Homo sapiens: one gene and its partner. The protein of the gene in region 1 purifies or fractionates together with the protein of each later gene. This does not show direct contact. Each region holds a gene or a part of one and is shown on either strand. Other genes may lie near its edges.

Region 1 (7,031 bases):
GTCACTAAGTTTGTGGTAATTTGCTCTGACAGAAATAGAAAACTAACACGCCAGTCCAATTTTTAACATTTTAACCACATCCCTACCTTGTCCATTCAAGGCAAGTTTCTGGCGGTTCTGTTATTATTATAGAAAACACAGGTCCAGATGTATAAGATATAATCAATACATTCAGCATTAAAAAAATGGTAATATATTAAATGACTTTAAATACTGTGCATAAAGTTAATTATACCAGTATTTCTAGAAATTTGTCATACTTTCATTTGGGAATTATTTTGGTATTATTCTTCTGAATCAGGTAACAACCTCATTTTTTTTTTTTTTTTGGAGACAGAGTCTCACTCTGTTGCCCAGGCTGGAGTGCAATGGCATGATCTCAGCTCACTGCAACCTCTGCCTCCTGGGTTCAAGCAATTTTTGTGCCCCAGCCTCCTGAGTGGCTGGGATTACAGGCATGAGCCACTATACCCAGCTAATTTCTGTATTTTTAGTAGAGAGGGGAGTTTCACCATGTTGGCCACATTGGTCTTGAACTCCCAACCTCAGATGATCTGCCCGCCTGAGCCTCCCAAAGTGCTGGGATTATAGGCGTGAGCCACCGTGCCCGGCCCAAGCTCATTCTTGTTTTAAAAACAGAGCCATCGGATGATCTCAGATTTTTAAGCCTTCCAAGGATGTGAAAAGCATGTCCCTAAATCAAATCAAGAACTCTCCTTCAATAGCTGGCTTTCACAGAGATACTCACTTATTAAGGTCAACTTCATAAGTCTGCATATGAGGTTTGTCTCCAGCCTTGTCTGGGTCCCATCGATAGATGGCAAATTTCTTGATACGGGGAGCTGTGGCTGCAGCTGTCTGGGCTCCTCGGGAGGCCTGAAATTTTTTAAAGTTCACAAAAAGGAAAAAAAAATTAGAAATACAAGATAATTCCATTTTGCTGGCACAACAGATGTAACGCTGGATATAAACTCACACATTACTGACACATAATCTTCTTAGAAAAGGCAGGCATTCAATATCCAACAAGTATTAAGCACCTATCATATGCTAATATATCAGACATGGTATTAGGGGCTAGTGACACAGCACTTAATACACAAAAACCTTCATCTTCACAGAACTTACTTTGTAGTGAACAAGAGTTAAATTAAACATTCACGATGAATATAAAGAGCGATACTGTTGGGAAAGTACAGGGAGCTCTGGATGAATACAGCAGAGACTTCAATGAGTGAAGAGTCAGAGAAGGCTTCCTCACATGTCATCTAAGTGGAGGCTTGACAAACCAGAATTAAGGGGAAGGAGTGTGGGGTGTGGTCTGAGGGTGGTGGCTCATGCCTGCAGTCTCAGCACTTTGGGAGGCAGAAGTGAGAGAATTGCTTGAGCCCATGAGTTTGAGAGCAGTCTGGGAAACATGGCAAAACCCCATCTCTACAAAAAATAAAAAAATTAGCTGGGTGTCGTAGTGTGCGTCTCAGGAGGCAGAAGTGGGAGGACTGCTTGGGCCCGAGAGGTTGAGGCTGCAGTGAGCCAAGATCATGCCACTGCACTCTAGCCTGGGCAACAGAGTGAGACTCTTTTTCAAAAATACAAAATAAAAAAGAAAAAAAGAAAGAAAAGACTATACTCCAGGACTGCTAATTTTTAAAATAAACTGATATAGAAAAGTAAAAACTCGGAAGGTTAATTGACTAATTACAAAAAGATGCAGTGGTGTTTATTACTGAGGCAGGAGAACAGGGTTTAGAGACAGGGAGTCTTCACTACAGCCTCTGATTCGTCTCGGGCCAAGTCTTCATTTGCATAGGGTGTAACTAATAGGAAACCCGTACAGGGTACTTTAATCCCAGAAGACTGTGCAGCTGGGGCTCTTGAACCACTTGCTCAATCCCACTCCTACTCTATGGAGTGTACTTTCATTTCAATAAATCTATGCTTTCGTCTTCTGTTGCTTTGCTTGTGTGTTTTGTCCAATTTTTTGTTCAACATGCTAAAAACCTTGACGACTTGTGGTCAAGACCGTCTACCAGTAACATTATTTCTTGGTAAAGTGTCCCGTATTAACTGAAGCTGAAAATACAAACATCAGCTAACAGTAGAAAAGAAGAAAATATATGAAGAAAATGAAAGTTAAGATGAAAGCTATGTTTTACCTTATCACCAAGCTGGCTAAAATCATCAACAAAAGGAAAGCCATTTCTACAAATGTTTTTCACCGGGAACCCCATTTTGTAAACTGACATGAACATCTAATGCCACCTTGTGGTATTTGGGAGGAAGTGAGAGGAAAGATTCCTGAAGGTATCAACTCCAGTGGACTTTGCTTGCTTAATGTCCCATTTTTTTTTTGGTCTTTTTTCTGTGAGATTTAATAAGGTATAATTCATTATAATAAAATTCACTAATTTTAAGGGTATAATGAGTTTTGACAAAGCAATGTAATCCTACCACAATTACAACAGAGTATTTCCATCCAAAAAGGTCTTTTGTGCCCTTGATGGCAAACATAAGTCCCCTTTTCCTACCCTTAGCAACTGATCAGCTATCATCACGAGTCTGCCTTTTACAGAATTCATATAAATGGCATCATACGGTACGTAGTCTCATGTCTAGCTTCTTTCACTCAACATAATGCTTCTGAGATTCATATGTTACTGCATATAACCATAGTTAAATGCTTTTTTAAAAAATTAAACTATTTATTTATTTATTTATCTTTGAGACTGAGTTTTGCTCTTGTTGCCCAGGCTGGAGTGCAATGGTGCAATCTTGGCTCACCACAACCTCCGCCTCCCCGGTTCAAGCAATTCTCCTGCCTCAGTCTCCCGAGTAGCTGGGATTACAGGCATGTGCTACCAGGCCCGGCTAATTTTGTATTTTTAGTAGAGATGTGGTTTGTCTATGTTGGTCAGGGTAGTCTCAAACTCCCAACCTCAGGTGATCTGCCTGCCTTGGCCTCCCAAACTGCTAGGATTACAGGCGTGAGCCACCGTGCCTGGCCAACCTTTTTATTTTTTAATAATTATAGATTCATATGCATTTATAGAAAATAATACTGAGGCCAGGTGCAGTGGCTCACACCTGTATCCCAGTACTTTGGGAGGCCAAGACAGACGAATCACTTGAGGTCAGGAGTTCAAGACCAGCCTGGCCAACATGGTGAAACTCCGTCTCTACTAAAGATACAAAAATTAGCCCGGTGTGGTGGCACATGTCTGTAATCCCAGCTACTCGGGAGGCAGAGGCAGGAGAATCGCTTGACCCTGGGAGACGGAGATTGCAGTGAGCCAAGATTGCGCCACTGCACTCCAGCCTGGGTGACAGAGTGAGACGCTGTTTCAAAGAAACAAAACAAAACAAAAAGAAGAAAATAATACTGAGACTCCACATACTCTTCTCACCTGTAATCCCAGCACTTTGGGAGGCTGAGGTTGGGAAATCACCTGAGATCAGGGATTCAAGACCAGCCCAGCCAACATGGTGAAACCCCGTCCCTACTAAAAATACAAAAAAACGAATTAGCAGGGTGTGGTGGCGTGTGCCTGTAATCCCAGCTACTAGGGAGGCTGAGGCAGGAGAATGGCTTGAACTTGGGAGGTAAAGGTTGCAGTGAGCTAAGACTGTGCCACTGTATACCACCCTGGGTGACAAAGTGAAACTCAAGCTAAAAAAAAAAAAAAAAGAGAGAGAGTTTTGCTCTGTCACTGATTGTGCAGTGGCATGATCACAGCTCACTGCAGCCTCAACCTTCTGGACTCAAGCGATCCTCCCATCTCAGCTTCCCCAGTAGCTAGGACTACAGGCATGCGCCACCATGCCCAGTTAGTTTTTTTACATTTATTTTTGTAGAGATAGGGGTCTCACTGTGTTGCCTAGGCTGGTCTTGAACTCCTGGCCCCAAGTGATCCTCTGCCTGGCCCTCCCGAAGAGTTGGGATATAGGCATGAGCCACCATGCCAGGGCCCACATACTCTTTACCCAGTCTCCCCAACAGGAACATCTTGCAAACTGTAGCACACCAGCACAACCAGAATACTGACAGTGCTAGTCAAGATAGGGGACATTCCCATAAGCACAGGATCACTAACATTGCCCTTTTATAGCCCTGTCCACTTCCTCCCACCCTACCTCCCCTGTACTCCGTAAGCCCTAGCAATCACTAATCTGTTCTCTACTTCTCAAATTCGGTCATTTCAAGAATGTTATATCAATATAATCATCTGGTATGTAGCCTTTTGGAATTGGCTTTTTTTATTCAGCCGAATTCTCCGGAGATTCATCCAAGTTGCTGTGTACAGCAATAGCTTTTTTCTTGTTATAGCTGAGTAGCACTCCAAGGTATCATGTACCACAATTTGCTTAACCATGTAACTACTGAGGGACATTGGGGGTGTTCTAATTTTTGGTGACATGAATAAAGCTGAGATGAACATTTGTGGACAAATTTCTGTGTGAACGTTACATCTTCATTTCTCAGGATAAACACCCAGGTGTGTAATTGTTGGGCTGTATGGTAGCTACAAGTTTAGTTTTTTTTAAGCAACTGACAAAACTATTTTCCAGAGTGGGTGGCTGCTGTGCCTGAGGCAGATAGTAGGGTAAGTGGGACAATATGCCTTTTAAAAAATGGGGCTACTTCAAGTTTTTACTTCTAATTTGGACACTTTTATTTTTCATTTATTTTTTAAAATATTTATTTATTTATTTATTTTGAGATGGGGTCTCACTCTTGTCCCCCAGGCTGGAGTACAATGGCGCGATCTCGGCTCACTGCAACCTCCACCTCCCGACTTCAAGTGATTCTTCTGCCTCAGCCTCCTGAGTAGCTGGGACTACAGGTGCCTGCCACCACGCCGAGCTAATTTTTATATTTTTAGTAGAGACGGGGTTTCACCATGTTGGCCAGGCTGGTCTTGAACTCCTGACCTCAGGTGATCCGCCTGCCTTGGCCTCCCAAAGTGCTGGGATTATAGGTACAGGCCACCTTGCCCGGCCTTTATTTTTTATTTTTATAGACACATGGTCTAGCTTTATTGCCCAGGCTGGAGATCATGGCTCACTGCAGCCTTTAACTCCTGGGCTCAGGCGATCATCCTGACTCAGCCTCCCAAGTAGCTGGGACTATAGGTGCACACCATCATGTCCAGCTAATTTTTGTAGAGACAGGGTCTTGCCATGTTGGCTAAGCTGGTATGGAATTTCTGGGCTTAAGCAATCCTCCCATCTCAGCCTCCCAAAGTGTTGGGATTACAGGTGTGAGCCATTGTGTCTGGCCCTAACTTGGACTTTTTTTTTTCTTTTTTGGAGAGTCTCATTCTGTTGCTCAGGCTGGAGTGCAGTGGCGCGATCTTGGATCGCTGCAACCTCCACCCCTCAGGCTCATGCAATTCTCCTGTCTCAGCCACCCGGGTAGCTGGGATTACAGGCATGTGCCATAAAGTCCAGCTAATTTTTGTATTTTTAGTACAGACAAGGTTTTGCCATTTGGCCAGGCTGGGCTCAAACTCCTGGCCTCAAGTGATCCACCTGCCTCAGCGTTCCAAAGTGTTGGGATTACAGGTGTGAGCAACCGCGCCTGGCCCCTAACCGGGCTTTAAACAGAATCTGGGACTGGAGCATAATCCCCTAGTTCTTTTTTTTTTTTTTTTTTTTTTTTTTTTTTGTGAGACAGTCTCACTCTGTCACCCAGGCTGGAGTGGAGTGGCGAGATCTCTCTGCCTCCTGGGTTCAAGCAATTCTCCTGCCTCAGCCTCCCAAGTAGCTGGGATTACAGGCGCGTGTCACACGCCCGGCTAACTTTTTTGTATTTTTAGTAGGGATGGGGTTTCACCGTTTTAGCCAGGATGGTCTTGAACTCCTGATGTCGTGATCCACCTGCCTCAGCCTCCCAAAGTGCTGGATTACATACAGGTGTGAGCCACTGTGCCAGGCATAACCCCCTAGTTCTAAAGCCTGATTTAGTATTGTCAGTGGGCAACAGGCATTAGGCTCTATCAAGCTGGGTATCAGAACCACAAGGCCTGTGGGATGACTGTGGTTACCTGCAATGAGGTTTTCCCTTCAACATTTCTTTATAACATTTAAATATCTGTTTCATATCCACTCTACACGGATAATTGATCACGTATTATCTTTCCAAAAGAGACTAAGTTTGTATTAGAGCTAATTTAAATTTTTAAAAAGTCTTATCATATGAATGATGTGAAATAAGAGCAATGCCAGGATGTACTACACTGAATATCTAAGTCGACATATCCCAACATCAGTTTTGGAGTGCCCCAAAATGTCATCATTTTTTTTTTTTCAGTACAACTAATTTAAATTTGTTTTGTGTCAAAAATGTATTTTATAGGCCAGGCGTGGTGGCTCATGCCTGTAATCCCAGTACTTTGGGAGGCCGAGGCAGGTGGATTACCTGAGGTCAGGAGTTCGAGATCAGCCTGGCCAACACGGTGAAACCCCGTCTCTACTAAAAATACAAAAAAATTAGACAGGCACGATGGCGGGCACCTGTAATCTCAGCTACTTGGGAGGCCGAGGCAGGAGAATTGCTTGAAATCCGGGAGGCGGAGGGTACGGTGAGCCAAGATTCCGCCACTGCACTCCATCCTGGGCAACAACGTGAGCGTGACTCTGTCTCAAAAAAAAAAAAAAATGTATTTCATACAATATTTGGTGGGGCAAAGGGGGTTTACCAGAATGAAAGAAGATTCTGAAATCAAAATCACCAGAGTGGTCATGGTTCTGAAAGTGATAGAGCTTTGCTCATCTTGAGGTCTGTACAAAGAGTTAATTCTCAGGATTATGTTATCTGTGTTCCACCAAAAAATTCGTTGAATACATATATCTAAAAATTTGCCAGATTTCATTCATCGAACCTTTATAATCTGTCACACACGGTGCCAAATAATCTCTAATCTTTATAACATCTCTATGAAAAATGTTTTGTTGTTCCCAGTTAAAAGACGAGGATAGGATCATATAGCAACACAGGTCACTTGATTCAAAAATCCAACCTTTTAGCCATT
Region 2 (6,419 bases), on another chromosome or scaffold:
GTTTTGCACAGGAAAAAGAGTAACTCTAGATTTGAGCTGTTCAGTAGCCATTAACCACTGTGACTATTACATTAAATAGAATTAAACATTTAGTTCCTGCTGGGTATGGTGGCTCACGCCTATAATCCCAGCACTTTGGGAGGCCAAGACTGGAGGATCACTTGATCCTAGGAGTTTGAGACCAGCCTAGGCAACATAGTAAGACCCTATCTATCTCTTAAGAAAAAAATTAGCTGGGCATAGTGGCACACACCTGTAGTCCCAACTACTCAGGAGGCTGAGGTGGGAGGATCACTTGAGCCCAGGATGTTGAGGCTGCAGTGAGCCATGATCATGCCACTGCACTCCAGCTTGGGCAACAGAGGGAGATTGTGTCAAAAAAAAAAAAAAAATTCAGTTCCCATGTCATAGCAACACTTCAAGTGCTCATTAGCTGCCATATTGGATGGCTCTGATATAGAACATTTCCAGCATTACAGAAAGTTCTATTGGCCAGCATTGTTCTAGACATTGAGAAACATTATTTTCAAGTGGTCATAATTTTAATGGTAAAATTAGGACATAAAAATAATTTTCAAAGAATTATTTTCAAAGAACACTAGACATAAAATATAACAATTTTCAAATTTTCAAAGAATACTAGAAGAAAAAAATTATACAGTCAATCCAACAAAAAGCTTAATAGAAAAAAACCCTAAACAATAGTATAACTACAAATAAAATAGGGCTTCCGAATTATGTCTAAATAATACAATAATTACAAATATGAATGGGTTAAATTAGCCTATTAAAAGATAAAACCACTCAGATAACAAAAACAGACATAAGAAACACTAACATAAAACACAAAGAATTAAAATGAAGATATAGCAAGCAAATAATAGAAAGCTTGCAACCCAGCTATAGCTATAAACACAAAAAATGAAGTTATCTTTTGACCTAATAATTCCATTCCTAATACTTAGAAATATTTGCACATGTGCACAATAATACTTAAAGGATCTCAACACTGTTTTTTTTTTTTTTTGAGACAGTCTTGCTCCGTCACCCATGCTCGAGTGCAGTGGCGTGATCTCGGCACACTGCAGCCTCTGCTTCCTGGGTTCAAGTGATTCTCCTGCTGCAGCCTCCCAAGTAGCTGGGATTACAGGTGCACGTCATTATGCCCGGGTAATTTCTGTATTTTTTAGTAGAGATGGTGTTTCACCATGTTGGCCAGGCTGGTCTTGAACTCCTGACCTCTGGTGATCTGTCTGCCTTGCCTCCCAAAGTGCTAGGATTACGGGCCTGAGCCACCTTGCCTGGCCTGCAAAATTTGTTTTTAATAGAAGACACAAGAAATGATTTAAATATTTTATCAACAGAAAACCAGTTCTATCAACTATGGGCCCAGTATGCAGCTTTTAAAAATGACAGTTCTATATACATTGATATGAGACCATTTCAAACAGGTATTCAATAAAGTATAGAATGGTAACATATCACCAACTGTGTAAAGAAAAATATATAAACATATGAAATGATACATTCTGTGCCTATGCAAACATATGATACATTAAAAACAAAAGAACATATAGTGCCTGTCTCTGAGGGGAACTGTGAAGCTATGGAAAGGTGTTGAAGAAAACCTTTTTATAGTATGTATTCTTGTAATTGAATAAAAAATAAAATTACAAAAATCAGGCTTGGAAGTATTTAATAGCAGACAAAATATAGTTCAATATGAAAAGCATTATATGAGACAAAGGCAATTTTCAAAAATTGATAAAACATTCCACCAAAAATCATGACTACGCATCTAACAGCTTCAAAATATAGAAAATACTCAAATGCAAAATCAACAAATCTGCAATTACAGAAAAAGACTTCAACATACTTTTAGAAAGTAGTAACTCAAGTAGACAATAATAGCTAACACTTACCGGGCACTTCTTATGTGAGTGGCACTGAAACATGTGCTTTCATGCATTACCTAAGGCTAGAGAAAATGTTAATAACTTAGACAAGTCATACATGTATCATAAATATCTTTGTACCTGACAAACAGAATAAACATCTTTTTAAACACCATTAGATAATTATTTAAAGACCACATATTGGGAACCTACCCCTAAAGAACAATAACAACCACAATAACAACTATCACCCCAGTAAACATGGCTGGCAAGAATACAATTAAATGAACATTATCACTGATTTGGCAACAGCTCTTATGAAGAATAATTTGGCATTATGTATCAAGTGCCCATACTCTTTGACAAAGTAACTGTCTTTCTGATAATCTATCTTAAGTAATACAAAAATGGGGGGAGGGGAATAAAAATACAAAATATTAGAAACACTATCGTCAAAATGAAAGGGCATGGCTGAGTATGGTACAACCGTTCAACAGAATATTGTCATTAAAAACATTTATGGAGGCTATATTATATAGTCAATAACAGAAAATGCTTGAAAGGTTAGAAGTACATCATCAAATTATGTTTTATATAGCTGTAAAATAAACCCAAATCATCTTTAATGAACACATACTATTATGGTAAAAAAAAGTCTACAATTTCTAACTTTCACCTTAGGCAGCTTTTTATTTTGCATCCTTTTTTTCAACTTTGTCTTCTATTAGCTGTGCAAGAAATACATGTCTGCTAAAGTTACACGATCTTCGCACAACAGCAACCTACACATTAGTCTACAAAGGGGAACAAACCCAAATTCCTCAGAAGTCTGAGTCCACTGTTGCCTTCTTTCTGGCCATCTGGCAGTTACAATATAGCACAGAATGACTATGCAAGTTAAATATTCATCTTAGACATGGACATTTGCTTTGGGACTCCTAAAGTGGAGTCAAATTTGATCTCTACAGAAACTCTACAATGTAGCAGAGCACTGTGCGTACTTATTGACTCCCAGACAAGCCGAAACCCCGAATTTGTCATTTCTATCAGTTTTTATATAAATTGTTCTTACCTACTTATTGATGCTTACAATTTGGCAATTATAAGGGGCAAAATTGGAGCAAGTGTTTTGGGTAAATAACTCCTTACAATATATTAAAAATACTTACAAACAATTCTTAGAATCAAACACTTACGTAAATACTTTTTTAAAAAAATAGGTCCAAAAGACTCAGCCCAGATCGGCTTTGAAGTTATATCAAGATTTAAGTCTACTTCATGCCAATGAGCTACTCCTCAACAGGGGCTGGTTTTGCCATTTGAGGAATGACAGCCACTATGTTGTGTACACAAGAGAGCTGGATGGCATCGACAGAATCTTTATCGTGGTTCTGAATTTTGGAGAATCAACACTGTTAAATCTACATAATATGATTTCGGGCCTTCCCGCTAAAATGAGAATAAGGTTAAGTACCAATTCTGCCGACAAAGGCAGTAAAGTTGATACAAGTGGCATTTTTCTGGACAAGGGAGAGGGACTCATCTTTGAACACAACACGAAGAATCTCCTTCATCGCCAAACAGCTTTCAGAGATAGATGCTTTGTTTCCAATCGAGCATGCTATTCCAGTGTACTGAACATACTGTATACCTCGTGTTAGGCACCTTTATGAAGAGATGAAGACACTGGCATTTCAGTGGGATTGTAAGCATTTGTAATAGCTTCATGTACAGCATGCTGCTTGGTGAACAATCATTAATTCTTCGATATTTCTGTAGCTTGAATGTAACTGCTTTAAGAAAGGTTCTCAAATGTTTTGAAAAAAATAAAATGTTTAAAAGTAAATTATGGCTTATAGGAGCTTATAACTTTATTCAGATAGCATCAATCAGGGATGACCAGAACACATTAGGACCCCAGATTATTCAAAAACTTTAACGAATTTTAAGGGGAAGAATTTTATCTTTTCCCTTAAAATGCAGTCATAGAAATTAGAGGATGACTCACTGCCACAGTGTCTAAAAGCATTTGCTAGCAAAGAGGCAGGACACTAATTTGTAAACTGCTCAACTGTTCTGACTGGAAGGGAGGCCTGGAGCTCTGCTATCACCAATCCTTCCCTTCCCTCTACTCCACATCCTTCTAAGGAGCATGATTTGAAAATTACTTTCCTAGGTTAATGGGCATGTGCATCAATGGAGAGAATAGTATAAGCAAGTGAGATGTAGACTAAGCAAAATTTAGATGGAGAAGCACATTTTAAAAAATTAATAACTTAAAAGTCTCAAGTTATTAATTTTTTTTTTGCTAACTCAATTGGAAGTAAGACTATGAAATATTTCAGTGTGTTTCCAATTCCCAGTTGAATGCAGTGTTTCAGAATTTCAGGTATTTCTTAAGATCCTCGAAAACACTGGTGCTGTCAAGTCCAAGTTCCTCGTACAGGAATTTAATTTGGGCTGTAATCTAAAAGAAACACATTAAAAAAATTAAATAGAAGGCCTTTGTAGTAAAATGCCACTGTTTAAGCTTCTCTTTATCTATCCATCTTTACCTAACCGTGAAGTCAGCAATTTATGGCAAGAATACTTTCATTCGAGAGAGAGGCAGAAGGCTTCCAACAATTAAGATTAAATTATTTTCTTTAACAGAGCTCACGTATCAAGTACAAGAGAGAGACATTTCTCTTGATTGACACAGTGTCCCTCCCTCCCCTCCTGGGTCTCACCCATAGATAGGACATTTGTGAAGTGGCTTTGTCATAAACCTGCTGCAACCACTGAAAATGTGAAAACAACATGTATCTAGTTCGGGAATCTGTCCACTGAGAGGGCCTTGATAACATACCTTTTTGTGAGAATCCTCAATTACATGATTGCCTCCAGGCTGAATATCTAGAATAATATTAGGGGTCTGATAGCCTGGAAGAGTTAACATGTAGAACAATTAGAAGATTGTATGGGATCTTCTTTGGAAGATCGAGACCCATTCCTCCCCTCTTCTTTGAGTACTCAGTTCAAATAATAGTAAAGGAATAAAAAGCAAAAACCACCATCATCAACAAAAAGATGGGAGGGGACAAGCAACAGAAGACAAACTTCTGACACAGCGAAAGCAGGAAGAGGCCGTATGGAAAAGACTATATGGTGCCACACGGACAAGGTTGAAACCCAGGAGATCATCAACCTGCCCTGTGGAATCTGAGAGTCTTATGCCCTGGAAACACCAACTACAGCAATGGATGGGGGTGACAAATGGAGATGAATACAGGGAGACTGATATGGCATGTAGTTTCAAGGCAAAAGGGAGGGATTCTTATCTCATAAAGCTGAAACAGCTAGCTAGAGGAAATTCATGCAGCTAAACAGTTTGGGCACTGATGGCCCAAAACAAAAATCTCAGAATCTGTCTTTTAGAGATTCCCAAGAATAACGGCTCAATAAATATTGTTAAATGAATTAATAATTGTATGGCAGTGCATCTCCAAGTTATATCTGATTCTTAAATTTCCTGTTTCCTTTGTGTCCTGCCTATCTATTTTAATACTGTCCTTTGAAAAAGAGGTGAGGCAGTGTATGTATAGACATGTAGTTACGTACACTTTAACTGGGGAGTCAACATAGCAAAATAATTGTTTGCCCTAAATCCTGGGCAGATGATTTGGCTACAGCCTGAAATATATTCCTCTGAGCAGTGTGCTGTGGGTAGTAGTCTGTTTGGCCATGTTCCCTGCTTCTAGGGGGTCTCCTACCTTCACCTGTGTCCTTAGCATGCTCCGCGATGGCTTCCTTGAGTTTCTCAGTATAACTTACAATTCCTTTCAGAGGTACCCGTTCATCGTTTTCATATGCCGTTATGTGAATTGAAGGATAATGCTGAAAGAAAATACATGCACGAAGAGTTTACATTATTTCTTATGGTCCCTTGCCACTATAGAGACTATGAAAAATAATTACCTCCAATTTTTCCCTGTAAGTGCTCTATGCTTTTTCTCACTTGCTATCTTGAGAGCGCCTCAGTATTACAGTAGTAGACTACTTGTTATCTGGAATAGCCTTTTCTTGACTAAAGGACCTTAGCTAATTTAGTAATTAAGGCATGATAAGTCTATTCCCCTGAGGTATTAAACATGGAGCATGAGCAGAGATGGTGCTGAAGATATTTGGGCATCATAAGTAGAAACATCTCTAAAGCTCCTATTTTTGCTTCAGCTTGGATAAGTTTTTTTTTTATTATCTTCTGTGTAAATTCAGGATAATCTAACACAATTGTCTTTCACTACCTGAGGTTTAATATTTTGATAGGGACAGTAACGTTTTATGTAGTTCTTGTGTTTTTCATCAGATGAAGGATTCCCCCATTCTTCTAATTCTTCTAATGTCAGAGGAAGTGTAGTGTCCATCATGGTGTTGAGAACATCCAAGAAAGGTGCCTAAAAAAAAGGCAAAGAAACTTATACTTCAAGTAAGAGGTTGGTAAGTGAGTTTCAGAAAAACATTCTATTTTATGAATATACATACTAA

The links.
Region 2: the proteins of SDHB (region 1) and PREPL purify together in Homo sapiens (affinity purification with mass spectrometry; 2 studies listed by BioGRID and IntAct, with this or other methods). This does not show direct contact.

The regions. Positions count from the first base shown.
Region 1 is NC_000001.11:17,044,013-17,051,043, forward strand, and holds part of SDHB (succinate dehydrogenase [ubiquinone] iron-sulfur subunit, mitochondrial isoform 1 precursor), read right to left. Parts: intron 877-7,031; coding exon 749-876; intron 1-748. UniProt on the Homo sapiens protein: Iron-sulfur protein (IP) subunit of the succinate dehydrogenase complex (mitochondrial respiratory chain complex II), responsible for transferring electrons from succinate to ubiquinone (coenzyme Q).
Region 2 is NC_000002.12:44,317,084-44,323,502, forward strand, and holds the end of PREPL (prolyl endopeptidase-like), read right to left. Parts: intron 6,329-6,419; coding exon 6,179-6,328; intron 5,772-6,178; coding exon 5,648-5,771; intron 5,355-5,647; exon of another isoform or gene 4,818-5,354; coding exon 4,744-4,817; exon of another isoform or gene 4,363-4,743; coding exon 4,273-4,362; 3' UTR 3,557-4,272; coding exon of another isoform or gene 3,116-3,556; 3' UTR 1,113-3,115; coding exon of another isoform or gene 1,035-1,112; 3' UTR 524-1,034; downstream 1-523. Other genes in the region: amino acid transporter heavy chain SLC3A1, read left to right, coding at 3,116-3,556. UniProt on the Homo sapiens protein: Serine peptidase whose precise substrate specificity remains unclear. Does not cleave peptides after a arginine or lysine residue. Regulates trans-Golgi network morphology and sorting by regulating the membrane binding of the AP-1 complex.